4 linked regions of the Homo sapiens genome follow. The protein of the gene in region 1 purifies or fractionates together with the protein of each later gene. This does not show direct contact. Each region holds a gene or a part of one and is shown in the gene's direction. Other genes may lie near its edges.

Region 1 (7,023 bases):
TCTTACTTTTCCTGAGCCTTGGCTTTCTTGTATATAAAATTAGGGGGCTGTGGTAGGTCTCAGGTTGCTTCATGCTCTGGGGTAAGTCTGAGTTAATTGCGGGCTGAGATGTTGGTAAGAGGTAGTATTAGGAACTGTTGTGAGGACCAGACCTAGCCCTCAATTAAGTGTGTTTCCTGCAGGAACACCATGCTGAGCCTTTGCCTTGAGAATGCGGAGCTGAAAGAGCAGATGGGAGAAGCAATGTCTGATGGATGGGAGATCGAGGAAGACAAGGAGAAGGGCGAGGTGATGGTTGAGACTGTGGTAACCAAAGAGGGTCTGAGTGAGAGTAGCCTTCAGGCTGAGTTCAGAAAGCTCCAGGGAAAACTGAAGAATGCCCACAATATCATCAACCTCCTCAAAGAACAACTTGTGCTGAGTAGCAAGGAAGGGAATAGTAAACTTACTCCAGAGCTCCTTGTGCATCTGACCAGCACCATTGAAAGAATAAACACAGAACTGGTTGGTTCCCCTGGGAAGCACCAACACCAAGAGGAGGGGAATGTGACTGTGAGGCCTTTCCCCAGACCCCAGAGCCTTGACCTTGGGGCTACCTTCACAGTGGATGCCCACCAAGTAAGTGTGGGCTTAGATTGAGTGAAAAACAATTGGAGAAGGGCTTGAGATGACAGTGTTTACCTTAAAACATTCTCCCATATGAATCAGGAGGTACCAAGAGAAGGGTCTCTTTGTACCACAAACAATAATAGTAATATTCTGCCTACATTCAGCCTTTAGAAAGGCTTTTATAACATAAATATTTCTTGAGTACTTAATTTTTCAGATAACACACTAGGCATTGGCATGGGGCAATAAAACCAATGGCTGCCCCTGAGATACTTAATATTGTCGGGAAAGATGGCACACAAACAGGTAATTTTAACAGGATGTGGTAACTGCTGTAACATAGGGATGCATCAGGTTATGAGGCAGCCCAGACAAGTGGTATGTAATGACATCCCTTATCACTGCCATTTTTTTGTCACAGCTCATCACAGGTGTCTGTTCCTGGGCTTCAGATGGGTTACTGGGATCCTCTTTAGGGAAGGAGCCATGCTGAAGATTCAGTGAAATGGAGAATACAGGGATTCTGAGAGAATCAATGGGACAGAATGTGAGGGGAGATGAGTGGTCTCTTTTTGACCACTGAGAAAACATTTCCTGAGAGCTCCTCTGTAGACTTGATTGGTGCTGTGCTGTGTGCTGTGGATACAGATATGAAGAAAACATTATCCCAGCGCTCCAGGAGCTCCATCTGGAAAGCAAGTCACTGCCAAATGGCATGAGAAGTGCTGTGACAGACTTGAGTAAAGTCCACAGGGTTCAGAAGGGGCGGTGGTCGTCACTGCATGGGGGTGACCTCAGACTGTCCTGATCCCTGTATTGGCCCCTTTCACAGTTGGATAACCAGTCCCAGCCTCGTGACCCTGGGCCTCAGTCAGCGTTTAGCCTACCAGGGTCCACCCAGCACCTGCGCTCCCAGCTGTCACAATGCAAACAACGCTATCAAGATCTCCAGGAGAAGCTGCTGCTATCAGAAGCCACTGTCTTTGCTCAGGCTAACGAGCTGGAGAAATACAGAGTTATGCTTAGTAAGTAACTATGACTTACTAGTAAAGAAAACTAGCCTATATGTCTTATAAGTTCTGTATGTTCTATACCGACATAACGTGGTTATTGAGCACACGAAGTGTGGCTAGTGCAACTTGGACATTTGGTTTTATTTAATTTTAGTTGATGTAGTATAAAGTGGCCATATGTGGCTGCTAACTACCTTATTGGACAGTACAGGTCTAGGGTCTTGGGACTCTAAATTAGTTCAGCTCCATTCAACATTTATTGAACCCCTGCGGATAAAGCACTTGCCAGCTTCAATGGGGCTGCTAGAGATGATAGTGTACAATCCCTGACTTACAGATATCTGGTCCCAACTAAAGCCTGGGTTATCTGAAGGGGAGATAATGGCAAATGCAGGCTCCTCCTTTGGAAAGAAATTCTGCTTCCTGGAGCTGGTGATCTCTTCTCCCACCAGTTCAGAGAAGCTTCTCTCCCACTGTGGATCTGCCTTCCGTGCCTCAAAAGGTTAGGGTATGTGCCATTGAGGCTGAGGGCATATGTGGGAAATTCAGACATTCTGTAACACCTGCTTCTCTTCCCAAGCAGGTGAATCCTTGGTGAAGCAGGACAGCAAGCAGATCCAGGTGGACCTCCAGGACCTGGGCTATGAGACTTGTGGCCGAAGCGAGAATGAGGCTGAACGGGAGGAAACCACCAGTCCTGGTAAGAGCACAGGGTGTGGGGCTCACCCCTCCCTGGAGTCAGCTGTCACATTTGGATGCTGTTGGCCAATTCCACACCTGACAAGTATTGGGGAAGAGGAGGACAGGAGGTTAATAGGAGAAATCTTACCCAAAATGAGGCTGAGTATAAGTTTGAATTTCTACAATTAGTTTTTGGCATACTGCTAATAACAATAATAATATAAAATTCTATCCAACTGATTATTATAGAAATACTAAGGCCTACTTAGAGACCAGATAAGGTTTTAGAAACATGCAAGCCATAAATTAAAAATAATTTTGTTTTGCATTATAAAAAGACTACAACTATAGGGCCACCCACCACATTGAAAACCAGAAGAGAAGAAAAACACAATCTCTCTCATTCTTGAGGCAGTGTAGTGTGGCAGTTAAGAGACAAGATCCTGGGGCCAGACTGGTTGGTTCAAATCCCAGTTTGAAAACTTTCCTATGTCCCAGTTTCTTCATGTGTTAAAATAGTAATAAAGGAACTACCTACCCCATCAGGTACTAAGGTCAATTAAATGAGTAAATTCTTATAAAATGCTTTAGAACAGTGCCTGGCATCTGGTAAAATGCCATGGATTAGTTCTCATTCTGACTACCACTGCCCTAATACACTGATGTTAACATGCTGATATATTTATTTGAAGCCTTATTTTCCTATGCCTATTTTTCATACAGTTGTAACCCAATAAACTTTTAAATTATAGTAAAATTTAAAGAGCATTAAACTTTCAGCATGCAGTAATAGCTTGTCCTACATTCTTGTGGCCATCCTAAATAGATAAGGCCATGTTAATGTCTTAAGAAACACCAGTGTGTGTGGAATGAACACAGGACATTGGAGGATTTGAATTCTGGCTCTGCCATGTGCTAGTTTGAGTGATCTAGAACAAGCTAGTTTACCACCTCTCTTTAAGTTTTGGTTTCCCAGTCAGTAAAATAGAAAGTGATGAAACCTAACTTGTAGGTATAAGGAAGATAAGAAATATTGTATTTGAATGCCTAGTACAGTGTCAGGGTTGAATAAAGTACTACTTCAACTTTTTCCCTAGTAATTATTGTCCTCATGACCAAACCTGCCTCCTCTCAAAGGCAGTGGCCACAACAGCACATCCAACTTTTATTTAGGAAGACATCTTTGTCTTTTTTCAGAGTGTGAGGAGCACAACAGCCTCAAGGAAATGGTCCTGATGGAGGGGCTGTGCTCTGAGCAGGGACGCCGGGGCTCAACACTGGCTAGTTCCTCTGAGAGGAAGCCCTTGGAGAACCAGCTAGGGAAGCAGGAAGAGTTCCGGGTATATGGAAAGTCAGAAAACATCTTGGTCCTACGAAAGGACATCAAAGATCTGAAGGCCCAGCTGCAGAATGCCAACAAGGTCATTCAAAACCTCAAGAGCCGGGTCCGGTCCCTCTCAGTTACAAGTGATTATTCGTCTAGTCTGGAAAGACCCCGGAAGCTGAGAGCTGTTGGCACCTTGGAGGGGTCTTCACCTCATAGTGTCCCTGATGAGGATGAGGGGTGGCTGTCTGATGGCACTGGGGCTTTCTACTCTCCAGGGCTTCAGGCCAAAAAGGACCTGGAGAGTCTCATCCAGAGAGTATCCCAGCTGGAGGCCCAGCTCCCAAAAAATGGACTAGAAGAGAAGCTGGCTGAGGAGCTGAGATCAGCCTCGTGGCCTGGGTAAGGATGGCACTGTTTGGGTACTTTCTTGATTGAAAATGTGTAAGTTCATGCTTGGCGTAGGGTAGCTCAGGCAGTTGGAAGAAAGAACATGTCTGGGTATTCACAGGGACACTGATTTAAATGGTAGATACAGGTCTGCAGAAAAGACAGGTAGGCAACCAGGAGGGCATAGGATGATGTTCCAGTATCTGGGAGATACCGGGTCTCAGGGATTTCCTCTTAGGGATATATTAGTAAAGATGGTATAGTATAGTAGTAATACTGGAATCAGACTACCTACCTCTGGTGCTTACTACCCATGCAACCTTCTTAACCTTTCTGAGCCTTTGTCCTTACCTATTAAATGAGGATGATAAGAGAACCCATCTCAAAGGGTGGATATTAGGTTTAAATGAATTAATACAACTGCTGACCAGGCGTGGTGGCTCATGCCTGTAATCCCAGCACTTTGGGAGGCCAAGGCAGGTAGAACACCTGAGGTCAGGTGTTCGAGACCAGCCTACCCAACACGGTGAAACCCCATCTCTACTAAAAATACAAAGATTAGCTGGGCATGGTGGTGCACACCTGTAATCCCAGCTATTCGGGAGGCTGAGGCAGGAGAATCGCTTGAACCTGGCAGGTGGAGGTTGCAGTGAGCCGAGATGGCACCACTGCACTCCAGCCTGGGTGACAGAGCAAGAGTCTGTCTCGGAAAAAAAAAAAAAAGAATTAATACAAGTGCTTAGAATAGTGCCTAGCATATGTTAAGCTCTCAATGCTATTTGCCATAGTTATAAGTGTTATTGATACTTAGTGTTGAAAACACAGACATTCATCTTGGTGTGTCCTGGTTATCTATTGCTAAGTAATAACCACTCTAAAACTTAGTGACTTCAAACAACACTTTATTATGCTTCATGGTTCTATGGTTTGACTGGGCTCAGCTGGGTGGTTCTCACTTAGGGTCTCTTGTTTTGGGTCCCATCAGTTGATGGTATGAGCGTTTAAATGATGGCCATCATTGCAAAATGTAGTCAGCCACAGTATCGTAACATAGAAGAAATTCAGGCATCAGGTGGTGGTTAAAACAGAAGGCATGAAAGGTTCTATCTAGACTTAGGATGAAATGATGCTAATTATTCATTGAGTAACTGCTGTGAATCTATGTGATACTGGTGCTGTAAGGGATGTAAAATGCAGAACTATGTTTATTCTCACAGACCTTATGATTTATCTAGGGACATATAATTAACACATGTATAACAGTTGAAGAACAGTGACATACTAAATTTTTTTTTGATACGGAGTCACTCTGTCATCCAGGCTGGAGTGCAGTGGTGCCGTCTTGGCTAACTACAACCTCCACCTCCTAGGTTCAAGCAATTCTCCTGCCTCAGCCTCCCGAGTAGCTGGGATTACAGGCATGTGCCACTATGCTCAGCTCATTTTTTTTGTATTTTTAGTAGAGGCAGGGTTTCACCATATTGGCGAGGCTGGTCTCAAACTCCTGACCTTGTGATCTGCCTGCCTTGGCCTCCCAAAGTGCTGGGATTACAGGCGTGAGCTACCACGCCCGGCCCGTACTAAGTTTTTTAATGCAATACTTTATCAGGGTAGAATTTACTCTTAAATACCTCCTATGGCTTATGTGCCAGAATTCAGCTTGGGGGAGTTCCTTAGAGATGTTCTCATAGAAATCTCTACAGAAGCCCCCATAACTCCATAAGTTAGCTTCCACTCTTTCCATACTTACACTTTCCTCTTCTGTCCTGCATTAGGAAATATGATTCCCTGATTCAGGATCAGGCCCGGGAACTGTCTTACCTACGGCAAAAAATACGAGAAGGGAGAGGTATTTGTTATCTTATCACCCGGCATGCAAAAGATACAGTAAAATCTTTTGAGGATCTCCTAAGGAGCAATGACATTGACTACTACCTGGGACAGAGCTTCCGGGAGCAACTCGCCCAGGGAAGCCAGCTGACAGAGAGGCTCACCAGCAAACTCAGCACCAGTAAGTTGGCCACAGGGCTTTGGAATACTCTCAGTCACCCCCACAGTTCCAGCCCCTGGTGGCCACCACATCTCCACTGCAACTTTTTATCCTAAGGTCCTGTTTCTATTTCATTTCCTGGGGCTAATACAGGATCAAGACTGCTCAGTGGGGAGCATGGAGAGGAAAACACAGGGCTGGAGATGCCATGGTTACAACTATAGAAACTTCACCACTAATGGAATGTGACCTGTGGGGCAGGGGCAGCATCTCTCTGATGCTAAGAGGGAGTAGGGGACATGAGATGGAAGGGCTTTGTTATAGGAGGAAGAGCCCTGAACCAAGAACTACAAGACTCAAGCTCTGGCCTGGATGCTGCCACCAACTCGCTAAATGCCTTATCCTTGTGGTGTCTCCATTTATGGCATGGTAATGTGCATGCAGGTACTCCACATATGGATAAAGCGCCATGCTCTTTTATACATGGTTTAGGCACTGGCTGCAGTAGTTCAAGGGCTACATTGGTTATTATTGGGGTCTTCTACTCAGAATTTCCAGCGACTATCCAAGGGAGTAAAGTAGGATCAGACTTGGGAGCCACCCAGCCCACCACCTGGTGGCAGATGCAGAGGTGGGGCAGGGCTTCTTGTCATCTCCTCAGAGACCAGTGCAGGTTCTGCATGAAAGCTGTGGTGGGGCATATGCATTGGGGAGCTAGTCTGCAGCAGGACATGGAGGCTGGAGTGTCCCGCAGGGCAGCTGGGCAAGGGCCTCATGATTAATGGAACAAAAGACATTATAAATGTTTTACCCTGATTTAGGGCAGAGGAAGTCATCATGGTGACCGGCAGGTCAGGGACAGTGGGGTCACTTCTCTAGAGACACAAGCTGAGGTATCCCAGAATAACTGTTCTGGATGCACACATGAAATGCTCACTACTCTGTCTCCAGATAGGCTCCTGCATTTGTAATGCGGGAAGTGGGACCAGCCTAATTTCTTATCGTCTCTTTCTAAA
Region 2 (7,924 bases), on another chromosome or scaffold:
TGTTTAATTTCCTGGTGTGAAAACAAATTTGATAGCACTCTTTTCATTTCAATGCTGAGCTCTCAGAGTTCATTTGCCATTGCTTCCAGTCTGATTCTCTGAGAAACTGGTGCAAATTGCTTTGCAAATCCACAACCAAAGAATCAGTATCAGTGATGCTCTTTTAAGGAATATGAGATACATAGTTCCCATAAGCCACTGTTCAAAAGGCTCAAAATGAAATATTCTGAAAATGAAAGCAAAAGAAATCATAAAATATTACCAAAAAGGTTATGTGGTAGTGAATAAAAGCCAGAATATGATTTGAGAAGTGAACATTTGTTCTGAGAACAATGCTAATGTAATGGGAATATCAGGACCAAGCTTTACTTTTTCAGGTCATGGTTATTGATTTAAGAACTGATGCAAATGAAAATTACCAAAGAGCTGTTTGCAAAGATGTTTCAAGTCCAATAAGTCTTGTTTTAGTATTATACTATTGTAAATCTCTCAGGATGAAAAAGACTATATAGGTCATCTAATCCAATTACGCATTTCATGCTTGAAATCATTGCTATATTCTTAAAGAAATGAGAACCACACAACCTTGGCATTGTGGTTGATGACAGAGAGCTATCTACCATGCTTCATATAATAAATCTACAAGAAGAAATAAATGAATTTGGAAACACAAAATGGCATTAACAAGATATGGCTCTTAATAATGTTTGGAAAAGTAGTGCTTTTTTTAATTTTGTCATTCCTAGGGAAAAGGTATTAGACATTGTGGCAGAGATTGATAATTATCTCCAGACTTTTTTTTTTTTTTTTTTTTTTTGAGACAAGGTCTTACTCTATCACCCAGGCCGGAGTACAGTGGCACAACCACAGCTCACTGCAGCCTTGACCTCCCTGGGCTCAGGCGCTTATCCCACCTCAGCCTCCCGAACAGTTACGACCACATGTATACCACCAAGCCTGGCCAATTTTTGTATTTTTTTATAGAGATGGAGTCTCCCTATGTTGCCCAGGCTGGTCTCGAACCCCTGGGCTCAAGCGATCCACCCTCTTTGGCCCTCCAAAGTGTTGGGATTACAGGAGTGAGCCACTGTGCCCGTCCAGACTTGGTTCTTTTTAATTCCCAAATGTTTACTTGGCACGTGACTGCTCAAAATAAATATTACATTTCCAAACTTTCCTAATAGCCATTGGTTTCAGTTGCTATTGCTGTGTAACAGATTATCTCAAAACCTAGAGGCCTACAACAACCTTTTTATTATGCTCACAGATTCTGTGGAACAAGGCTTCAGCCAGGGCATCCAGTACAGGGCTGGCTTCTTCTATCATGCTGACTTGACTTTTACAATGTTCTATTGGTCAAAGAAATCACAAGCACATTCAGATTCAAGGGGAGGGGAAATAAGACTTCAATTCATTAGTGAGTAGTGGCCACGCCACACTGTAGGAGATATTGTTGTAGCCGTCTTTGGAAAATGCAATTTGCCACACCAAAGGTGTGGCCATGTTGACTAAGTTCTAGCCAAGAGGATAGAAGAGGAATTGTGTTTAACTTCCTAGAAGGAAGGGAGGGGAGGGGAGCTTCCCTTCTCTTTTTCACTTTCCTCTTAGCTAAAATATGACTGGCCCTGGAGCAGCCATTTTGGACCACAGACAGGATCATAGAGCAATGAGCTGGAGGGAGCCTGGGTCCCTGATGATCATGGAGTACCACACTGTGTCCGGAATTGGTGGGTTCTTGGTCTCACTGACTTCAAGAATGAAGCCGCAGACCCTCGCGGTGAGTGTTACGGTTCTTAAAAGTGGCGTGTCCAGAGTTTGTTCCTTCTGATGTTCGGATGTGTTCGGAGTTTCTTCCTTCTGGTGGGTTCGTGGTCTCACTGGCTCAGGAGTGAAGCTGCGGACCTTCGCGGTGAGTGTTACAGCTCTTAAGGCGGCGCATCTGGAGTTCCTCCCGGTGGGCTCGTGGTCTCGCTGGCTTCAGGAGTGAAGCTGCAGACCTTCATGGTGAGTGTTACAGCTCATAAAGGCAGTGTGGACGCAAAGAGTGAGCAGTAGCAAGATTTATTGCAAAGAGCAAAAGAACAAAGCTTCCACACTGTGGAAGGGGACCCGAGCTGGTTGCCACCACTGGCTCAGGCAGCCTCCTTTTATTCTCTTATCTGGCCCCACACACATCCTGCTGATTGGTAGAGCCCAGTGGTCTGTTTTGACAGGGCACTGATTGGTGTGTTTACAATCCCTGAGCTAGACACAAAGGTTCTCCATGTCCCACCAGATTAGCTAGATACAGAGGGTCCACACAAAGGATCTCCACGTCCCCACCAGAATAGCTAGATACAGAGTGGCGATTAGTGCATTCACAAACCCTGAGCTAGACACAGGGTGCTGATTGGTGTGTTTACAAACCTTGAGCTAGATACATAGTGCCGATTGGTGTATTTACAATCCCTTAGCTAGACACAAAGGTTCTCCACGTCCCCACCAGACTCAGGAGCCCAGCTGGCTTCACCCAGTGGATCCCGCACTGGGGCTGCAGGTGGAGCTGCCTGCCAGTCCCGCGCTGTGCGCCTGCGCTCCTCAGCCCTTGGGTGGTCGATGGGACTGGGCGCCGTGAAGCAGGGGGCGGCGGTCGTCGGGGAGGCTCGGGCCGCACAGGAGCCCACGGAGTGGGGGGGAGGCTCAGGCATGGCGGGCTGCAGGTCCCGAGCCCTGCCCCGCGGGAAGGCAGCTAAGGCCTGCGAGAAATTGAGCACAGCAGCTGCTAGCCCAGGTGCTAAGCCCCTGACTGCCCGGGGCCGGTGGGTCCGGCCGGCCGCTCCGAGTGCGGGGTCTGCCGAGCCCACGCCCACCCGGAACTCGCGCTGGCCCACAAGCACCACGCGCAGCCCCAGTTCCCGTCCGCGCCTCTCCCTCCACACCTCCCCGCAAGCTGAGGGAGCTGGCTCAGGCCTTGGCCAGCCCAGAAAGGGGCTCCCACAGTGCAGCGGCAGGCTGAAGGGCTCCTCAAGCGCTGCCAAAGTGGGAGCCCAGGTAGAGGAGGCGCCAAGAGCGAGTGCGGGCTGTGAGGACTGCCAGCACGCTATCACCTCTCAATACCAACTCTGAACTGCCCACATTTAGATTCCAGAGAAATAAATCTTAAGCTATTGTATTTCGCATTTTCTGCCACATGTGAGCAGTGTTTATCATAATTAATACAAATATTATCACAAATTTAGACAGGTGATACACATGCATCTTAGATTACCAGATCCGTAAAAATAATAATGCTTACACGGTAGAGAGTAGTACTAACATTGTGCTCCAACCGGTGACATGTGAGGCTCACCATATTTTATAAAAGTTTAATTCTTTTTTTTTTTTTTTGAGACGAAGTCTCACTCTTGTCCCCCAGCCTGGAGTGCAACGGCACTGCACGATCTCGGTTGACTGCAACCTCCGCCTCCTGGATTCAAGCGATTCTTCTGCCTAAGCCTCCTGAGTAGCTGGGATTACAGGTGCCTGCCACCATGCCCGCTAATTTTTGTATTTTTAGTAGAGATGGGGTTTCACCATGTTGGCCAGGCTGGTCTTGAACTCCTGACCTCAGGTGATCCGCCCACCTCGGCCTCTCAAAGTGTTGGGATTACAGGCATGAGTGAGCCACTGCGCCCGGCCAAAAGTTTAATTCTTAAAATGCTCGACACAATTAGAAGCACTTAACTACTGTATATTTAAAGCAACGTAACATTATTACTATAAAGTTGTTAAGAAATGAAAATAGAGAAATACATTGGCTCATGGAGTCAATACAGGATGCATCATTAACAAAGGGTTAACATCAAGATCCATTTTTACAAGAGGGACTAGTTCGTTACATCTCTGATTTCTAGACTTGGAGTTTCCCCAGTCATGTGTTTACTCTTCCGTGGGTGGGAAGATAAATCAGAATAACCAAGTGAGCTTGCTCTTGAAATATTTTATTTACAATGATATGATAATTGTAGAAAATGAAGTATGCGTACTTAAATAGAATTTAATTGACAAAAGACAATTTTCTCTACTTCAAAATTGTAAACATTTGCAAAGTAAGCCTCATTTCAAAGTCAAAGCCTTCTACTTTAAAAGCACACATTAGTAATTCTATTTTTCTTTATACTGAAGTATTTCAATTTTTGGACATACAAGTCAAAAATCATTCAAAGCATAAAGGAAAGTTTCAAAATAATAAGCGCCTCATCCTGCACTATCCTATTTAAAAGAGATCAACTAACTTTGATAGGTGCCTCTCAATAAATGGTGCCTTTGTCTCAATAAATAGTAAATGCGTGGAGTGCACAACGGAATAGCATCAGTAAGACGAAACATAATAAACAGGATGGATCGGGAAAGGCTGGATAAAATGTGGGGAAGAAAAAGAAAGACGTCACAAAGATGGGGTAGCATTTCTTTGTCCAAAAGAGAACCAGTACCACCATAAGACTTTAAACAAAGGACATTAGCAACACTTATCATGCAACTAGATTCTAGAAGGAAAATAAAATGCCACTACTAAGGTGGAGGCTGAAGTTTCAAGACAAATCTCCTGGCACCACCTCTGCGGGGGTTCACCATGGCGAATGACGCCTGGGAAGCGGGGCGAGTGGCCAGCCCGCTCCTGGACGCGCGGACAGGTGGACACGAAGGCGGCCTCGCTGGGCCTCCCTCCGCCTCTCCCGGCCCGGGCGCGCAGCCCTGCGGTGGTCTGACAGGCGGGTGCGCGGCGCCAGCCAGCGGAGGTTGCCATGGTTTCCGGGGGTCACGTGGGCGCGCTCTCCTGCGCCCCCTCCCGCGCACCGCGGCGGGGCGGGGGCGGGGCGCCCGGGCGGGGGAGAGGCGCGGCCGCGGCTGGAGCGGGAGGAGCAGGAGATGCTGCCAGCCCTCCCGGGGCCGCGCTCGCTCAGCCGCCGCCACCACACGGAGCAGACGCGCGCCGGGAGCCGCGGGCCGGGCCAGCCGGGCCGCCGGGGCCCAGTGCGCCGCGCTCGCAGCCGGTAGCGCGCCAGCGCCGTAGGCGCTCGCTCGGCAGCCGCGGGGCCCTAGGCCGTGCCGGGGAGGGGGCGAGGGCGGCGCCCAGGCGCCTGCCGCCCCGGAGGCAGGATGAGCATCGAGATCCCGGCGGGACTGACGGAGCTGCTGCAGGGCTTCACGGTGGAGGTGCTGAGGCACCAGCCCGCGGACCTGCTGGAGTTCGCGCTGCAGCACTTCACCCGCCTGCAGCAGGAGAACGAGCGCAAAGGCACCGCGCGCTTCGGCCATGAGGGCAGGACCTGGGGGGACCTGGGCGCCGCTGCCGGGGGCGGCACCCCCAGCAAGGGGGTCAACTTCGCCGAGGAGCCCATGCAGTCCGACTCCGAGGACGGGGAGGAGGAGGAGGCGGCGCCCGCGGACGCAGGGGCGTTCAATGGTGAGGACCAGACCCCCCACTTCGCGCCCCCGGATCCCCTCGCTGCCCCCCACCGCTCCCCGCTGTGCTCTCGGATCTTGCCGCTTTGCGCACCCACCTCTCCCCGCATTCTCCACCTTTCCCTACCTTCCCATCTCGCCCACCCCCTCAGCATCCATTTCTGTCTCTCCCACTCGCCCACCTTCCTACTCCGCTCTCTGTCATACCCTCTTCCCTTCCTCTAGAGGTGGGAGAGCTGGGATGTTACGCTTCCCTCTTACCCTTTGCCCCCTCTGCCTGGGCCGGTTGGGGTGGGCATCTGCTAGAAAGACAACTTTCGCTGTGGTTGGAGGTATTTCGCTTAGAGGATACCATTGTGCATAAAGAAACTGGCCCGCTTGGCGTCTTCTTTCAGCCCTTGTATTTATTAATGGAATGTCGAAAGAGAAAAGGAGAACCGTGTTTAATATGATTGGCTTTACTGTTGTTAGGACGGTAGATTCGCTAAAAGAAGCATGAAATTGGACTCACTGGGGCAGAACAAAATTTATGGCCAGTAGCTCTGACATTCTTGGAAATAAGAGTTATCTATTATTTTCCAATTTACCAATACCGTGTTGTGTTATTTTTGGACACGTAACAAAGGATTCTATTTAGTCTGAAACCCACGGGGGTCTTTGGAACGAGGAAATGGGTTAATGGTTTGCTTTTTATATAAAAGACATATTGAATGATTTGGTGCTTTATTTTTTTAAAAGTGTATGAGAAAAACACTGTAGGAAGTTCTGAAAGCTTGTTGGTTGTCTTTAGAATGAAAAGCCAGTGAGTAATTGTAAGGATTGTGCCAGACAGTAGAGCTAGAAAGAATGAATGGGAAAGAAAAAGGAATTTTCTCAAATAGCTGCTCCTGGCAAGTCCCACCCCTTCTGCTTACAACCCTCTTTCCCTAACACACCCAGACACACACCCTCATTTACAGCCCCTTGTATTACACAACATGCCCAAATCTCATTTTTATGGCAACCCAAGCTAAAATACCATGGAGTGCAGTGTGCAAGTGTTTTCTCTTTGTGGTGTAAGGCAAACATGCATGCAGCATTGCACCAGCTTTTATTTATTTACACTGCTTGTGGTTTGTGTGTCCGCAGTGTATTTCATAAAATGAAAACATTTAAAAGTGTCATTTCATTTCCTTGTGTATGCTCCTAGGAAGATGTTTCTTTTCTTTGCAGGATTACATGTTGAAATGGATTATAAAATTAGTGTATTTTTAGTTTCTCCAAAAGAATCCCAGAAACCCTGGAAATTAGTGCGCTGTGAAGATAAAAGTGAAGCTTGTTACTTACAATTTTAATTTTGGACTTCTAAATGTTTCCCCAAGAGGATAAACATAGTCTTAATAATTCTTTTTGCACAAGAATCGAATCAAAAGCTTTTCCTACCAGAAACGAGAAAGAGAAAAGAATGCATGTTTTAAATAGGTAAGAAGCAGCAGCCAGTAACGGATGACAGAAAGGGCAGAGATATCTAATACTTCTTTTATGCTCCTGACATGTTCGTGCACACACACAAAGGGGAAAAAAAGGACTCTTTTCCCAGGTTGGAGAAAACTAGGAACTAAGGGGCTTGGTAAAGACCATATATATATATATATTCTGTATGATATGTTGTTAATATAATCAAAATATTTTGTTTGTATAATGCATTTGTTGAAGTACTTTGCATTGATGATTGCATTTTCTCCTTATAACAATATATTGCGCACAGAAAAGATTCCATTTTCATTTTGTAGTGAAGAAATAAGCCGTTAACTTCTGAACAGCAGGGGTCATTTTATATGGCTTTATATTCTCCAAGGCACCTTTGCTGTAAAAATTGCTCAGTGTGACTTAAACAAGTTAAACTTGTTAAACAATTGCACTATTTACTCCCTAGCCTCACCCCCAAGGACTTTAAAACTTTTTGACTGCAACCAAATACAATTTGATCATTATCCAGGAGGCACATACATCTGTATAACAGAAACTTTGGCAATAGTACAGGTACTTCCTTCTGTCAGATGCAGTGCTTTTTGATATTTCCTATTTGAATCAGTTATTTCTCCCTATTTTAAATTGTATTGAGACCTCCAGTTGAAAAACATTTAATTATAGGCTACAAAGTGATTGGCAAGGTTTCTTGTAAAGGGCCGGTTAGTAAGTGTTTTAGACTTAGGGCAACATGTGGTCTTGATCACTTCTTCTTCAGTTTTTTTTTTTAAACACATACACCTTCTGAGGGTTGCGGTTGTACAAAATTAGCTGCAGATCAAGGCCATAGCTTGCCGACCCCTGGTTAGAAGAAAAAAAAAAAAGTCAAAATAGTACCATTGGGGGAAAAAACAGGAGTGATCCTAAAAAGTATGAGCCTATCAGTTTGACATCTATGTCCAGAAATGTGTCTCATTAGAAAAGAACCCCAGATACTGGGCAATTCTGGCATAGTAAAGAATAAGGATTGGAAAACAAGTCTTAATTTACT
Region 3 (7,023 bases), on another chromosome or scaffold:
CACAGGTGGCAGTGCACGACCAAGCCCCCTGGGAATGCAGAGGAGTCCAGCATACTTCAACATGCAGGTGGTCTCCCAGACCCTGTGGGTTTCTGTTTCCCCTCTGCTGAGGAATATGTGATATTTCAACCACCACAAAACAAAACAGAGCAAACAGGGCAACTTAGGTGTCCAAACTGAAGTTGCTGCCAGGCACGGTGGTTCTCACCAGTAATCCCAGCACTTTGGGAGGCCAAGGTGGGCAGATCACCTGAGGTCAGGAGTTTGAGACCAGCCTGGCCAACATGGCAAAACCCTGTCTCCACTAAAAATACAAAACTGAGCTGGGCATGGTGGTGGGCACCTGTAATCCCAGCTACTTGGGAGGCTGAGGCAGGAGAATCACTTGAACCCAGGAGACAGAGGTTGCAGTGAGCCAAGATCACACCACTGTACTCCAGCCTGGGTGAGAGAGTGACATGCCGTCTCAAAAAAAAAAATTGAAGTTGTTGATTTTGTGCATTTTTTGAGCCCCAAAAGGTGGCATGCATCTGTAGTCCCACTAGTCCTGAGGCTGAGGTGAGAAGATCATTTGAGCTCAAGAATTTGAGACCAGCCTGGGCTGCATAGTGAGGTTTTGTCTCTTTTAAAAAAAAAAAATTGGCTGGGCGCAGTGGCTCGTGCCTGTAATCCTAGAACTTTGGGAGGCCGAGGCGGGCGGATCACGAGGTCAGGAGATCAAGACCATCCTGGTTAACATGGTGAAACCCCGTCTCTACTAAAAAAATACAAAAAAATTAGCCGGGTGTGATGGCGGGCGCCTATAGTCCCAGCTACTCGGGAGGCTGAGGCAGAATGGCGTGAACCCGGGAGGCGGAGTTTGCAGTGAGCCGAGATCGCGCCACTGCACTTCCAGCCTGGGTGACAGAGCGAGACTCCGTCTCAAAAAAATAAAATAAAAATTATACTATTATTTTATTTTATATAGGTGGACAGTTTTATATGTGTAGATTTTAATATATATTTTTATACATAAAATAAATCTATATACAGAAATTTGTAAGTTTAAGATACAGGCTGGGTACTGTGGCTCATGCCCTATAATCCCACTTGGGGAGGCCAAGGTGGGCAGATTGCTAGAGCCCAGGAATTTGAGACCAGCCTTACATAGCAAGACCCCATCTCTACAAAAAAATACAAAAAAAAAAAAAAAAAGTCAGGTGTGGTGGCACATTCCTGTAGTCCCAGCTCCTGGGGAGGCTGAGGTGGGAAGATCACCTGAGTCTGGGAGGTCAAGACTGCATGAGCCCACCTTCATCCCTAGGATGCAAGGCTGGTTCAACATATGCAAAAAAAAAAAAAGACTGCATAAGCCGTGATCACGCTGCTGCAGTCCAGACTGGGTTGTAACCCAGTCAGACCCTGCTGAAAGAAAAAAAAAATTTTTAACTTATAAATTTGTCTTATTAACTTATAAGTTTACATACGTAGTTTTATTTGATTTTATTTTTTGAGACAGAGTTTCACTCTTGTCACCCAGGCTGGAGTGCAGTGGCACGATCTCGGCTCCATGCAAACTCTGCCTCCCGGGTTCAAGTGATTCTCTTGTCTCAGCCTCCCAAGTAGCTGGGACTACAGGTGCATGCCCCCTTGCCTGGCTAATTTTTGTATTTTTAGTAGAGATGGGGTTTCACCATGTTGGCCAGGCTGGTCTCGAACTCCTGACCTCAGGTGATCCGCCCCCCCCGCCTTGGCCTCTCAAGATGCTGGGATTACAGGCATGGGCCACCGCGCTGGCCTTGTAGTTGTATTTTAGATAGATAACTATAGATTCACTTTACATACAACAAAATGCACAGTTCTTCAATGTTCCATGCTACAAGTTTTGACAGTTGTATATAGCTACCTAACCTCCACCCAAAACAGTATATGGAACTTTTCTATCACCTAAGAAAATTCCCTTGAATCCCTTTTTTTTTTTTTTTTTTTTCCAATAACATACAGAGGTGGAGGCCGGGTGCCATGGCTCACGCCTGTAATCCCAGCACTTTGGGAGGCCGAGGCGGGCGAATCACAAGGTCAGGAGTTCGAGACCAGCCTGACCAACATGGTGAAACCCCGTCTCTACTAAAAATATAAAAATTAGCCGGGCGTGGTGGTGCACACCTGTAATCCCAGCTACTCAGGAGGCTGAGGCAAGAGAATCACTTGTTTCCAGGAGGCAAAGGTTGCAGTGAGCCGAGATTATGCCATTGCACTCCAGCCTGGGCAAGAGAGCGAGACTGTCTTAAAAAAAATAAATTAATCAAAAAAAAATATATATATATATATACACACACACACACATATCTACATACATACAGAGGTGAGGTCTTGCCTATATTGCCCAGGCTGGTCTCGAACTCCTGGGCTCAAGCGATCTTCCCACCTCGACCCCCCAAAATGCTGGGATTACAGGGGTGAGCCACCGCACCGGGCCGAATCCCTCTCTTGACACGTCACCTCCCCACCAAAGGCAGTTGTCCTTTCTGACTTCAAACACCGTGCCTTTGTTTTGTCTGGGCGTGGACATGATATAAATGGAATCATTCATGTTCTTTTGTGTCTTCTTTTGCTTAACATAATCAGTTTGAAATGCAGCCACATTGTTGAGTGGATGCATGGGCTGTCCTGTTGGCGGTGGTGGTGGTGAGTGGAATTCCATTGTATGACTATAGCTCAGTCTGTGATTCCATTTTCCTGTGGATGGACCCACAGGCTGTTTCCCATGTCGGGCTATCTAAGAATCAGGTGCCTTGCGTTTCTGACGGCTGGACTGGAGGTGTCTTCCTCTGGGGTAGGCTCTGCAGGGCCACCTGCTGGACCATTTTGGGGCATGACCACTGACGTTCACCTCCCCATTTGTCCCCATCAGTGAGCCCCATGCCCGTTTCTACGCGGCCCAGATCGTCCTGACCTTTGAGTATCTGCACTCGCTGGATCTCATCTACAGGGACCTGAAGCCGGAGAATCTGCTCATTGACCAGCAGGGCTACATTCAGGTGCCCACCAGGCCGGGCGAGGGGCAGCCCTGGGGAAGCCGTGGCCTGGACCCTTCCTCCCTGCCAACTGCCTGTTCTTGTGCCCACAGGTGACAGACTTCGGTTTCGCCAAGCGCGTGAAGGGCCGCACTTGGACCTTGTGCGGCACCCCTGAGTACCTGGCCCCTGAGATTATCCTGAGCAAAGTAGGAGCCTCCCCAGCCCTCCCCTTCCCCTGAGGCCGGCTCTGCTCTCCTGCTCTCGCCTCCTCCTCACCCTGTGCCCCCCCATCTTGCTCCAGGGCTACAACAAGGCCGTGGACTGGTGGGCCCTGGGGGTTCTTATCTATGAAATGGCCGCTGGCTACCCGCCCTTCTTCGCAGACCAGCCCATCCAGATCTATGAGAAGATCGTCTCTGGGAAGGTGAGGTCCGGATGTGGGGACACAGCCCTGGAAGAAACAGACCGTTCCCTGCTCACCCATCCTATTCCCTGGGGAGCCCTGCTTGTTGTCAGAATAATCTAGAAGTTCCTTAAGTCAGGCCAGGTGGTGAAGCTGGACGCGCCGGCCACACTGAGGCCAACACCTCAAGCCCCCTTGCTGTCCAGCCCCAACCCCGCGGTTCCAGAATCCCATGGGCTTCCAAAATCCCGAGCCTCACGGGAACATCTTGGCCACAGAACACAAACCGCCCTGCCAGACGACCCTCCTTTTCGCTCCTCATCCCAGTTAGTGTGAGTTTTCGCAAATTCCAAGGCAGAAAAACGAATGTATTTGGTTCCTGTTCCCAGGTGCTGTCCATAGCCTCACCCAGGATTGCCCTCACTTAGCATTTATAGCCCATGCTTCCTCTCCCAAACCCAGACTTGCCTAACTCTGAGGGTTCAGATGAGGGGTGGTGAAGCCATCTCAGCTCACATCTATGACAGGTGCAAAGTGCCCACCATCCACCAGGCCCCAGAATCCCCATCAGTCACACCCTGAGATAGTGGCACCCTCTGTAGGAGAGGTGAGGAAACAGGCTGGGAAAAGGGATGTGTCTTGGCCAAGATCACACTTTGGTGAGTAGGTAATCACCGTAGGCAATCATTGTAGGCACTGATGGCCGGAGAGAGGTTGGGGACCCCACCTCTGCCCTCAGCTCAACCACCTTGCTGGGAAGACCCGACCATCCCCCGACTTGGTCCAGCATCTCCTACACAGGAGCTTTTGGTTGGCCCGGAGTCATGACACTGTGGTGGGAGCACCCTCAGGCTCAGCCTGGGCCCCAGTCCCAGCTCTGCCACCGACTGGCTTTGAAACTTTGGGGCTGGGTACAATGGCTCACACCTGTAATGCCAGCACCTTGGGAAGTGGAGGCTTGAGGCCAGGAGTTCCAGACCAGCCTGGGCAACATAGCCAGACCCCATCTCTAAAAAAAAAAAAAAAAAAACAAACTGGCCGGGCGCGGTGGCTTACACCTGTAATCCCAGCACTGTGGGAAGCCAAGGCGGGCAGATCACCTGAGGTCGGGAGTTCGAGACCAGCCTGACTAACATGGTGAAACTCCGTCTCTACTAAAAACACACACAAAAAAAATTAGCTGGGTATAGTGGTGGGCGCCTGTAATCCCAGCTACTTGGGAGGCTGAGGCAGGAGAATCACTTGAACCCAGGAGGCGGAGGTTGCAGTGAGCCAAGATCACACCATTGTACTCCAGCCTGGGCAACAGGGCAGGACTCTGTCTCAAAAAAAAAAAAAAAAAAAAAAAACTAAAAATTAGCTGGGCGTGATGGTGCACCCCTGTGTTCCCAGCTCATCGGGAGGGTGAGGCAGGAGGATCGCTTGAGCCCAGAAGTGAGCTGTGAGCTGTGATTGCATCACTGCAGTCTAGCCTGGGTCACAGAGCCAGACCCTGTCTTTTAAAAAAATTCAGGCAAGTGGGGTGCCCCAGCTGGACACATAGCATCACTAAAAGAGAAAGATGAAGGCCAGGCGCGGTGGCTCACACCTATAATCCCAGCATTTTGGGAGGCCAAGGCAGGTGGATCACGAGGTCAGGAGTTCAAGACCAGCCTGGCTAACATGGTGAAACCCTGTCTCTACTAAAAATACAAAAATTAGCTGGGCGTGGTGGCGGGTGCCTGTAATCCCAGCTACTCGGGAGGCTGAGGCAGAGAACTGCTTGAACCCGGGAGACAGAGGTTGTAGTGAGCCGAGATTGCGCCACTGCACTTCAGCCTGGGTGACAGAGCAAGACTCTGTCTCAAAAAAAGGGAAAGATGAGGCATCTGCCACCGGACCAAAAGAAACTGCCAAGAAAATGGCCCAGAGTTGGCCGGGTGTGGTGGCTCACGCCTGTAATCCCAGCACTTTGGGAGGCCGAGGCGGGCGGATCACGAGGTCAGGAGTTTAAGACCAGCCTGACCAACATGGTGAAACCCCGTCTCTACTAAAAATACAAAAATTAGCCGGATATGGTGGCACACACCTGTAATCCCAGCTACTCAGGAGTCTGAGGCAGGAGAATCACTTGAAACCGGGAGGCAGAGGTTGCAGTGAGCTGAGATTGTGCCACTGCACTCCAGCCTGGGCAACAGAGCAAGACTCCATCTCAAAAAAAAAAAAGAAAAAAAGAAAAAAAAATGTCCCAGAGTGGGAAAAAAAAGAAAGAAAAAAACACAGAAGATCCCACAGGAGAAGATGCACATGACTCCCTTCTTTGTAGCATTTTCTAGTTCCCCCGCACCGTCAGTGGTATTATCTCCCTCGTGCAGCCCTGGCATATCTGCCCCACATCTGAGAGGCATGCGCAGGCCCAGAGAGGTTAAGGGCCATGGCCAAGGTCACACAGCGTGTAAGAGGCACAGCAGGAACAAGAAGTCGTTTCTTGCAACTATAACTCCAGTGATGACTTGCATACAAGGCGTGGGCTCAGAGGGTTTGGGGAAAACTTTCAAGAAGAGTTGAGCTGGGCTTTAAAGAACGGAAGAGCCTTAGCTATGCAGAAAGAGAGGAGAGAAAAAGTTTGTCATAAGCAAGAATATTTCAGAAGTCTCCAGACCCCAGCAGAGATGCCTTAAGCAGCAGCAGCAGCAGCTGAGAATGCAAGTTCTAGAGTCCAGTAGACCTGAGATGGAATTGCCCCATCACACACCTCAATGTGACCTAGGAAGAGCTGTTTAACCCAAGCCTCAGTTTCCCCTTCTCTGAAATGGAAATCATCATAGCACTTGCCTTAGAGCAATGGTTCTTAAAAGGGACCCCTTTCCAGCAGCACCATTGCTGGGGAATTTGTTAGAAATGCAGATTCTTGGGCCAGGCACGGTGGCTCACACCTGTAATCCCAACACTTTGGGAGGCCAAGGCAGGTGGATCACCTAAGGTCAAGAGTTCAAGACCAGCCTGACCAATATGGTGAAACCCCGTCTCTACTAAAAATACAAAAATTAGCCAGGTGTCTTGGCGTGAGCCTGTAATCCCAGCTACTCAGGAGGCTGAGACAGGAGAATTCCTTGAACCCAGGAGGCGGAGGTTGCAGTGAGCCCAGATCGCACCACTGCACTCCAGCCTGGGCTACAGAGTGAGGCTATTTTTTTTTTTTTTTTTTTTTTTTTTTCAAAAAAAGAAATGCAGATTCTTGCTGGGTGTGGTGGCTCACGCCTATAATCCTAGCACTTTGGGAGGCCAAAGCAGGAGGATCGCTTGAGCCTAGAAGTTCAAGACCAGCCTGGGCAACGTAGTGAGACCCTGTCTCTACAAAAACTTCTTAAAATAACTAACTCTTGAATTTTTAAAGTTTTTAAAGAAATGCAGATTCTCAGGCCACAGTATCAGACTTCCTAAATTGGAAACTGTAGGGTAGGCTCAAGGAGCTGTTTTACAAGATGCTGGCAGGCACTCTGCTTTGGAGGCCCACACCCAGTAGGACCGTTGGATGGAGAAAGAAGCATCATGGGCTTCCCAAGTTCCAGACCAGCTTCCCACCCTGTCCTTGTACCCCTTCCTCCAGGTGCGCTTCCCTTCCCACTTCAGCTCTGACTT
Region 4 (6,816 bases), on another chromosome or scaffold:
TTCTGGGCTCTTTTGTCACTAACTGTGATCATTTTTTGATATCAATGCATAGAGCTCTACAACGTCATTTTTAATAGTTGCTAAATTATTGTATTATATGTAAGTACCATAATTTATCCAGATCTATACTGAAATCAGGTTATTTTTTCCTACCATGAACAATGCTGAGACGAACATCCTTGTACATAGGCATCTTCTTGTGCTTATGTTATTATTCCTTGGGGGAAATGCCAGCGTGTAGAATTGCTGGGGCAAAGAGTTAAGCGCATCTCAGTTTGGTAGATCTTGCCAGGGCGTTCTCACTGGGCCATGCCATCCCGCACTTCCACCAGAGGTCACGAGGTGCTTTCCCCTTACCCTCAATGAGTTTTGTCCAATTTTGCCTTTTCCTGGTTGTCAGGAAAAGGCTTCTAGTTTCCATTCAAATATTTTTGCTAGTGAGGTTGAGCATCATCTTTTTATATGGCTTTGTAATTCTTCCTGTGTAACATGATGTTTATGTTCTTTGTTCATTTTTCTAATTTCTCTTCTCTTTAGATTGGAGAAATGAAGGCAGAGGTCACCAAACTACATAAAAAATTGTTTGAACAAGAAAAGAAGTTGCAAAACACCATGAAGCTTTTGCAGCTGAGCAAGCGCCAGGAAAAAGTCATCTTTGATCAATGTGAGTGAGTGTGGGGGTGGCCGCTATGCCTGACCACTTCCTGCCTCCGAGGGCTCCCAGTTCTGCCCTGGATTACCCACTTTGGAGCCCAGATGGTTTGTAATCATGCCTCCTATCTGTGGGCTTCTTTTCATACTCCATCCTTTCTGACTCACATAGACAAATGTATTCACTTAACACACCTTTGTAGAGCGGCCTTTTGGTGTCAGGGACTGTCGTCTCACTGGGAGACAGTCGTGTGGCATGTGCAGTGATGGGAACATGCAGAGCACTGGGGTGGGAGTTGGGTGGCCGTCACTCTGTCCCGGCAAGGTGGGCGTCTTAGACAAAGTGACCACCTCGCTGAGTGTGAAATGAAAGCAGACGTCGTCACATGGAGCGGGGAGTGGCAGTCCCTCAGGGAAGAGCATGGACAGAGGCACAAAGGCAGGAAATAAGTTTTTGTATGTGAGAAACCAAAACCAGTCCCTGTGGGGTAAAGGCTGCAAACAGTGAATTAAGGTGGGAGGGATTGGGGGTCAGGGAGTACTTCATGAAAGACTGTAGGTGGCAGGCTCAGGGCAGAGGATTGGCCTGTCACATCTGTGTGCAAGAATGGCTCGCTGGTGGCTGCTCCACCAGTGAGGGGGAGGCTGACTCACTAGTCAGACAGGAAAGGTGGCTAGGACGCTGGGGATCCAGAGGAGGGCATGGATTTGAGAAATACTTCTCAAGGCAGATGCCGAGACTCAGGGTTGGTGAGGTTAAGTAACTTTTGTAAGGTCAGTCCCAGTTCTGATCTAGCCACTTTGGAGATTGTTTGGGAGCAGCTCTGTCTCCTGGTTTAAACCCTCAGCACTCCCTCCCGCTGCATTTAGAGGAGCAGGCGGTAGCTGAGTTTCCATTAGTGCCTGTTGGCAACATGGCCCTGGCCAAGCCTGCGCTGTCTGTGTGTCAGTTTCCCTGTCTTAAGAGAACTGCTGACTGCAGCACTTTTTCTCTGGAGGTGCCAGCCTGCCTTGTGCGGCTCTCCTGTCAAAGTCCAACATTTCTGGGGCATTTCTGAGAAGCACAGGACAGAGATTATTGCCAAGTAGGAGTTCTCCTTAGCCACCCCTGGGAACCTTCTGAAAATAGACTCTGTGAGACTGCCAGTGTTTGGACTGCAAAAGAGAGGAGCGCAGCCACTGAGCAGGCACTGAGTTCCTGTTCTTTGCCCCTTACGCCAGGTCCTGGGGACAGAGATGAACGAGACAGTCTTTGCCAGTGAGGGTCGTGGGCTTAATAGGGGAGACACAGAGCTTAGCTGCAGGACGATGTGCTGAGTGCATCCTAGGAGGCCTGAGAGGTGGTTCAAGACTGACTGGGTCTTGAAGAATGACTAGGAATTTGTCAGCGAAGGGGCAGGAATAGGATTCTGGCAGATGGCCCTGTGGACTTGCTGGTGTGCTCCCAGGGGTGAGAGAGAACTGAGTGCTCAGGGACATGCTTAGGACGTGCAAAGGGTTTTCCTCTGAGAGATGAGTGAGAGGGAGAAGCAGGAACCAGGTTGCAAGGAGCCTTGTGGACAGGACTCCAGGACGAGCAGCAGGGACCGGCGGGGTCCATGCGTGTATTACAAGATCCCATGGCTGAGCTTGGAGGGGCCAGGAGGCCGGGAAGACCTCTTTGGGGGCTGCAGCAGTCCCCCAGGTGGGCAGTGGGTCAGGACTGTGGGGGAGAAGGGATGGTTTTGAAAGATTGTAAGGAGGTCAACCTGGCAGAGTGGTGGATGTCTGTGGGGTTCTGGTTGAGGGTTTCGTGTCACTCGTAGAGAAAAAGAGCACTGAGGGGAACCTGGAGAGAGACAGTGCCAGCTGTGGTCCTGTTAAGGCAGCTGTGGAATATTTAGGTTAGACTCTTGGAGCAGCAGTGGGGTGGGGAGCAATGCTCTGCATAGGTCTAGAGAAAGGCAGAACTCTCTGCATTGGCATCTCTCCTCCTCAGCAGCCTTTGGCCCTGAACAGTCACAGGGCAGGTAGCTAACCCTATTGACAGGTGAGAAAATTGCAGAAGTAGGTTTCGATGGGTTGAGTACTGTGGTCGGTCAAAAGGACAGAACTAGAACCCAGATCCCCTGTGTCCTAGGTCAGAGAACATGGAATTATTGATTGAGCACAGTTCAGATCTCCATTCTCCTATGTGACCTGCATTAGACTAGAACCCTAAGCTTTCGATTCCTCATCTCTAACTGGAGACGTGAGTTCCAAAGGACTCAGACTAACTAGTTGGTCCCGGGTTCAATAGCAACTTTATAAAAAGCACCCCAGTTTTCTCATCTGTAAAATAAGGATGATAACGCTACCTAAACTGTATTGTACTTAGCACAGTCTCGGGGGCAGAGGAGATGCTCAACCAGTCCCTCCTCTTTCTTTCCATTAGGCCAGACCAAATCCTATGCATGGAGGTGGCAAATCATTCATAGTAAGAAGAGCCGCAAATGTCTCATAGCACTTCCCCTCCTGAGCTGGTATTGTCCATCTCCATATCTCCTAGGCCTGGCACAGAGCAGGCTCCGCCAGAGCAGGGTGAGGGGCTTGCTCCAGGCAGCATAGCTGGTGGCTGACCCGGGCCTGCAACTCCTCCTTTGCCAGGCTCTGCAGCTCATCCCAAGGAGTCAGGTCCTTGGAAATTCTCCAAGCCCTGCGGACTTCACAGACCTGCTCTGGGTCTAAAGGGACTAGGAGAAAGTTGGCATAGCACCTCCTCTTCCTCCGTCCCCTCATGGTGATGGGGAAGAGCAAAGGCCAGGGCTGATTGCTACCTGGTCAAACTGACACCATACCTTCTCAGAGTCTACAGGGGAAAGTAAGGAAAAGGCATCCCAGTGGGACCCTAAGAGTCCTGATGCCCTGGGGCCACTCACTGGCCATGTGACCTGGAACCAGCTGCCTCAGGTCCTCATTTGCAAAGCGAGGACAGTAGTTCTGCCCCATAGGGTGGGGGAGTATTCAGTGAGGCCACCGTTGGAAACCACCTGTCACCAGGTCAACACTGCTCAGCTCAGGTCGGTACCTTCTTCCCAGCACTCTGCTGAGGTGGGAAGAACCATGGACTGAGTTGGGCAGGCCCACATGTGAGTCCCAGCTCTGTGCTGGGGCCAGTCTAGATTTGGGACGAGTCCTTTGTCGCTGTGTTCCTCGGTCTTCTCCTTGCAGTGGGGATTTCTGTGCTTTGGAACGTGGCAGTGCTGTTGAGGTGTAGGGGTCCCCTCAAAGCTTGAGCCAAGTGATCCTTAGTTCTTCTGCCATGAGCTTTGTTCTCTAGGGACATGGAGTGCTCTTTCACAATCATCTTCAACCTCCACAGCTGTGATACTTAATCTTTTCTGGGTCTCAGGCCCCTTGGTGAATCTGGAGAAAGCTGTGGTCTCTCTGTGGAAAAATGCGGACGTCCAGATACATACCCCCATTTGCACACAGTGTCGGAGGGTTTAGGACTGACCCCCCAAACATATCCAGGGCCCCATGTCAGGAACTTTGCCCTGCAGCAGGAGGTCAGGTTGGGGTAGAGGGGCAGTGGCCACCTCTGAAAGTCGTTTTGCTTGGCTAAAAACAAAGTCCACACCGTCTGTCCCGTCCCCAGTGTCACAGATTGCAAATAAACTCCATTACCTCCAGATGGAAATTTTCGTGAGGCAAGAAATCAATATTTTCTCAAGGCCACCACACGACAGACACCTATTCTGAAGAAGCCACTGGGGAGTCAGGCTATGTGTGTTGGGCGTTGAGTCTGTTACAGCCTCTGGCACTGTTGGCTAAAGGCGCGGCTCCAGAAGCCTTTGGTATTTCCAACGTGGGGAGTAAGCTGATCTTACTCTCACCAAGCCCTGTTGAGAACAGATTCCCTATCAGGCTCAGAACTCTGATCAAGAGGGGCATTCTTGCCACTGCTGGAGTTTGTGTTGGACAAGAAAAAGCCTGAAGGAAGACCCACCTTTACAGTTGCTCCTGAAAGCCAGGGCTCGCCTGCCCCTCCTGGGAATTCTCATGCACGGGGGATCTTTCTAGTACAGTGCTCCGGGCGTCAGTGTCAGCAGGGACCTCTGAAACCATCCCACCCAACCAGCTCTTGTCCAGGCAGAATGTGACTTGCCCAGAGGAATCAGGCTGGGCTATTCCACCAGCTAAAGGGCAGGCAAAGGAGAAGCAGCATGCCCACGGTTTTTTCTTCCAGGCCATTTGGAGCTGGCTCTAAGAGCTGCTGGGTAAAAACCTGGCTTCGTAGAACTTGGACCCTCATATGTGGGTCTGCCTGATCGGGGCACAGTCCCTTCCCACAGCTGCTTCCCAGAGGGCCTAGGAAACTAAAGAGTGCTGGGCAGGCCCAGGCCTCTACCCTCCCTGCGCCATTGCCCTCCCTGGCCCACAGAAGTGAGCCTGAGGGATACCTGGACAGCCAGGTGGCCGTGCACAGCTGTAGGGTGTTCTCTGAACCGGCATAGCATGCTGTAGCCTCTGCATCACTGTCAGGTGGTGGCTTAGCGGGGCCTCAAAGAGGTGTTGTTGATGCGTTATTTGGCCCTGGGGTTTGTGATGGGTCAGGTGGGCCCTTTGTACCTCCCTCTGGTCTGGATGCTTCAGACCTCGTGTTGTCTACATGTCCGAGCCCTTTGGGGTGGGGTTCATCCTCCCTGCACTTGGCTTTCACACAGCTCTCCTGGATATCCATGGCCCTAATCATTGCATTCTTTGCTCTCTCCTCAGTGGTCGTAACCCACAAAATCCTTCGGAAGGCCAGAGGAAACCTGGAGGTATGCCCTTTGAGTCTTTTCACTGCAGGCCAGTGGAAGGTCAGGAGGAGTGCAGGGCCAGAAAGGACCTCTTGAAAAATGAAGGTGCAGGTGGAACCAGGGGACATGTCCTCCTCAGAGAGTTGTTTCTGCCAGCAGTGCATGAAAAGTTGTGTTTTATCATGCCCTGTCGCCAGTAGGGGTTCTAAGTTTTAAATTTGTATGCTATTTTTACCAGTAAGAAATACAGCAAACAATGCTTGACACATAGTAGGCATTTGATGAATATTTCTTGAATGAATGAATACAGTATGATCTCATCGTTGTTTATTAGGTAAATATTTACTGACCAAACTATGTTTTTGAAAGCACTTTGAGAATAACAGTCTCGCTTTCACCTCTGTCGGGGTCTTACTTCAGAAACCTCCTTTGGACTTAAAATTCTCCTTTTTTTTCTTCCTTTTCCTAGCTTAGGCCTGGGGGAGCCCATCCAGGAACATGCAGTCCCAGCAGACCAGGCTCCTGAGAAGAACTTTCAGCCAATAAAGCTTGTGCTTCCCCCACCGAGCTCACGCTGTCTCTTTGTTCCAAGTGTGGTTCCTATTTATTGAGGAAGAAAGAGCTGTCTGGCCAAAGGAAATCTATTTTTTCCCTTCATGTTTTCTCTCTGAAAGTTGGCTTGAGAGTTGTTGTCAGAAAGGTGCAGGTGCTCCACAAACGGGTGGTAAAAAGGCCTCGAGCTCTTGGATGTTGTATTTCAGATCAGGGGCAGGCACCGGAGTTGAGGCTGTGCGCCTTGGTGGGCTTCACGTCTTCCCCTGGATTTGCTTAGTACTCAGCCAGTGCCACAGTTTGAAGATTCTCATTAAATGATTCATTTCATTTCACCTTGACGATTCTGTTGTTTTGTGTGGCGCCTCAAAGCCCAGGTCCCAAAATCCCAAGTGGGACAGGCCAGGGTTCCACGAGTCGCATGGCTCACTGCTGAGCTCGTTCAAGTGTCCAGAGAAGAGCACCTCCGTGCAGCGTGGCCATGGGCACTGGTGTGTGCTCAGCATCTCACAGTCTGCTGGACAGCAGCCCTTGCAGTGGTGCCATTCCCGATTTAGCAAAGAGCAGAGTGAGGCCCAGAGCTGGAATGTGGCATTTGCATTGTTCCCGTGATGACAGGGGTGTGTCATCAGCCATCCACATCGCTGCCTCTGACCAAGATGCCCCCAGCCAAAACACTTTAGCGGCTTCCCACTACCCTCTGATCCAAGCCCGAGCCCCTAACAAGGTTTACAAGCCTTGCTGGCACCTCCAGCTCCTTGCCCATCTCGCCTCCTCCCGCTCCACTCTGTGTTCCAGGCAAACGGAACAGTGTTCTCCCCAGTCTAACCCAGGCTGCGCCCTCTTGGAC

The links.
Region 2: the proteins of PDE4DIP (region 1) and PRKAR2B purify together in Homo sapiens (affinity purification with mass spectrometry; 6 studies listed by BioGRID and IntAct, with this or other methods). This does not show direct contact.
Region 3: the proteins of PDE4DIP (region 1) and PRKACA purify together in Homo sapiens (affinity purification with mass spectrometry; 5 studies listed by BioGRID and IntAct, with this or other methods). This does not show direct contact.
Region 4: the proteins of PDE4DIP (region 1) and CDK5RAP2 purify together in Homo sapiens (affinity purification with mass spectrometry; 4 studies listed by BioGRID and IntAct, with this or other methods). This does not show direct contact.

Annotation. Positions count from the first base shown.
Region 1 is NC_000001.11:149,001,409-149,008,431, forward strand, and holds part of PDE4DIP (myomegalin), read left to right. Parts: intron 1-182; coding exon 183-618; intron 619-1,441; coding exon 1,442-1,634; intron 1,635-2,202; coding exon 2,203-2,322; intron 2,323-3,500; coding exon 3,501-4,029; intron 4,030-5,792; coding exon 5,793-6,028; intron 6,029-7,023. UniProt on the Homo sapiens protein: Functions as an anchor sequestering components of the cAMP-dependent pathway to Golgi and/or centrosomes.
Region 2 is NC_000007.14:107,039,790-107,047,713, forward strand, and holds the start of PRKAR2B (cAMP-dependent protein kinase type II-beta regulatory subunit), read left to right. Parts: upstream 1-4,915; 5' UTR 4,916-5,118; coding exon 5,119-5,425; intron 5,426-7,924. UniProt on the Homo sapiens protein: Regulatory subunit of the cAMP-dependent protein kinases involved in cAMP signaling in cells. Type II regulatory chains mediate membrane association by binding to anchoring proteins, including the MAP2 kinase.
Region 3 is NC_000019.10:14,093,761-14,100,783, reverse strand, and holds part of PRKACA (cAMP-dependent protein kinase catalytic subunit alpha), read left to right. Parts: intron 1-2,893; coding exon 2,894-3,020; intron 3,021-3,109; coding exon 3,110-3,205; intron 3,206-3,300; coding exon 3,301-3,423; intron 3,424-6,991; coding exon 6,992-7,023.
Region 4 is NC_000009.12:120,388,360-120,395,175, reverse strand, and holds the end of CDK5RAP2 (CDK5 regulatory subunit-associated protein 2), read left to right. Parts: intron 1-537; coding exon 538-664; intron 665-5,388; coding exon 5,389-5,435; intron 5,436-5,883; coding exon 5,884-5,940; 3' UTR 5,941-6,301; downstream 6,302-6,816. UniProt on the Homo sapiens protein: Potential regulator of CDK5 activity via its interaction with CDK5R1. Negative regulator of centriole disengagement (licensing) which maintains centriole engagement and cohesion. Involved in regulation of mitotic spindle orientation.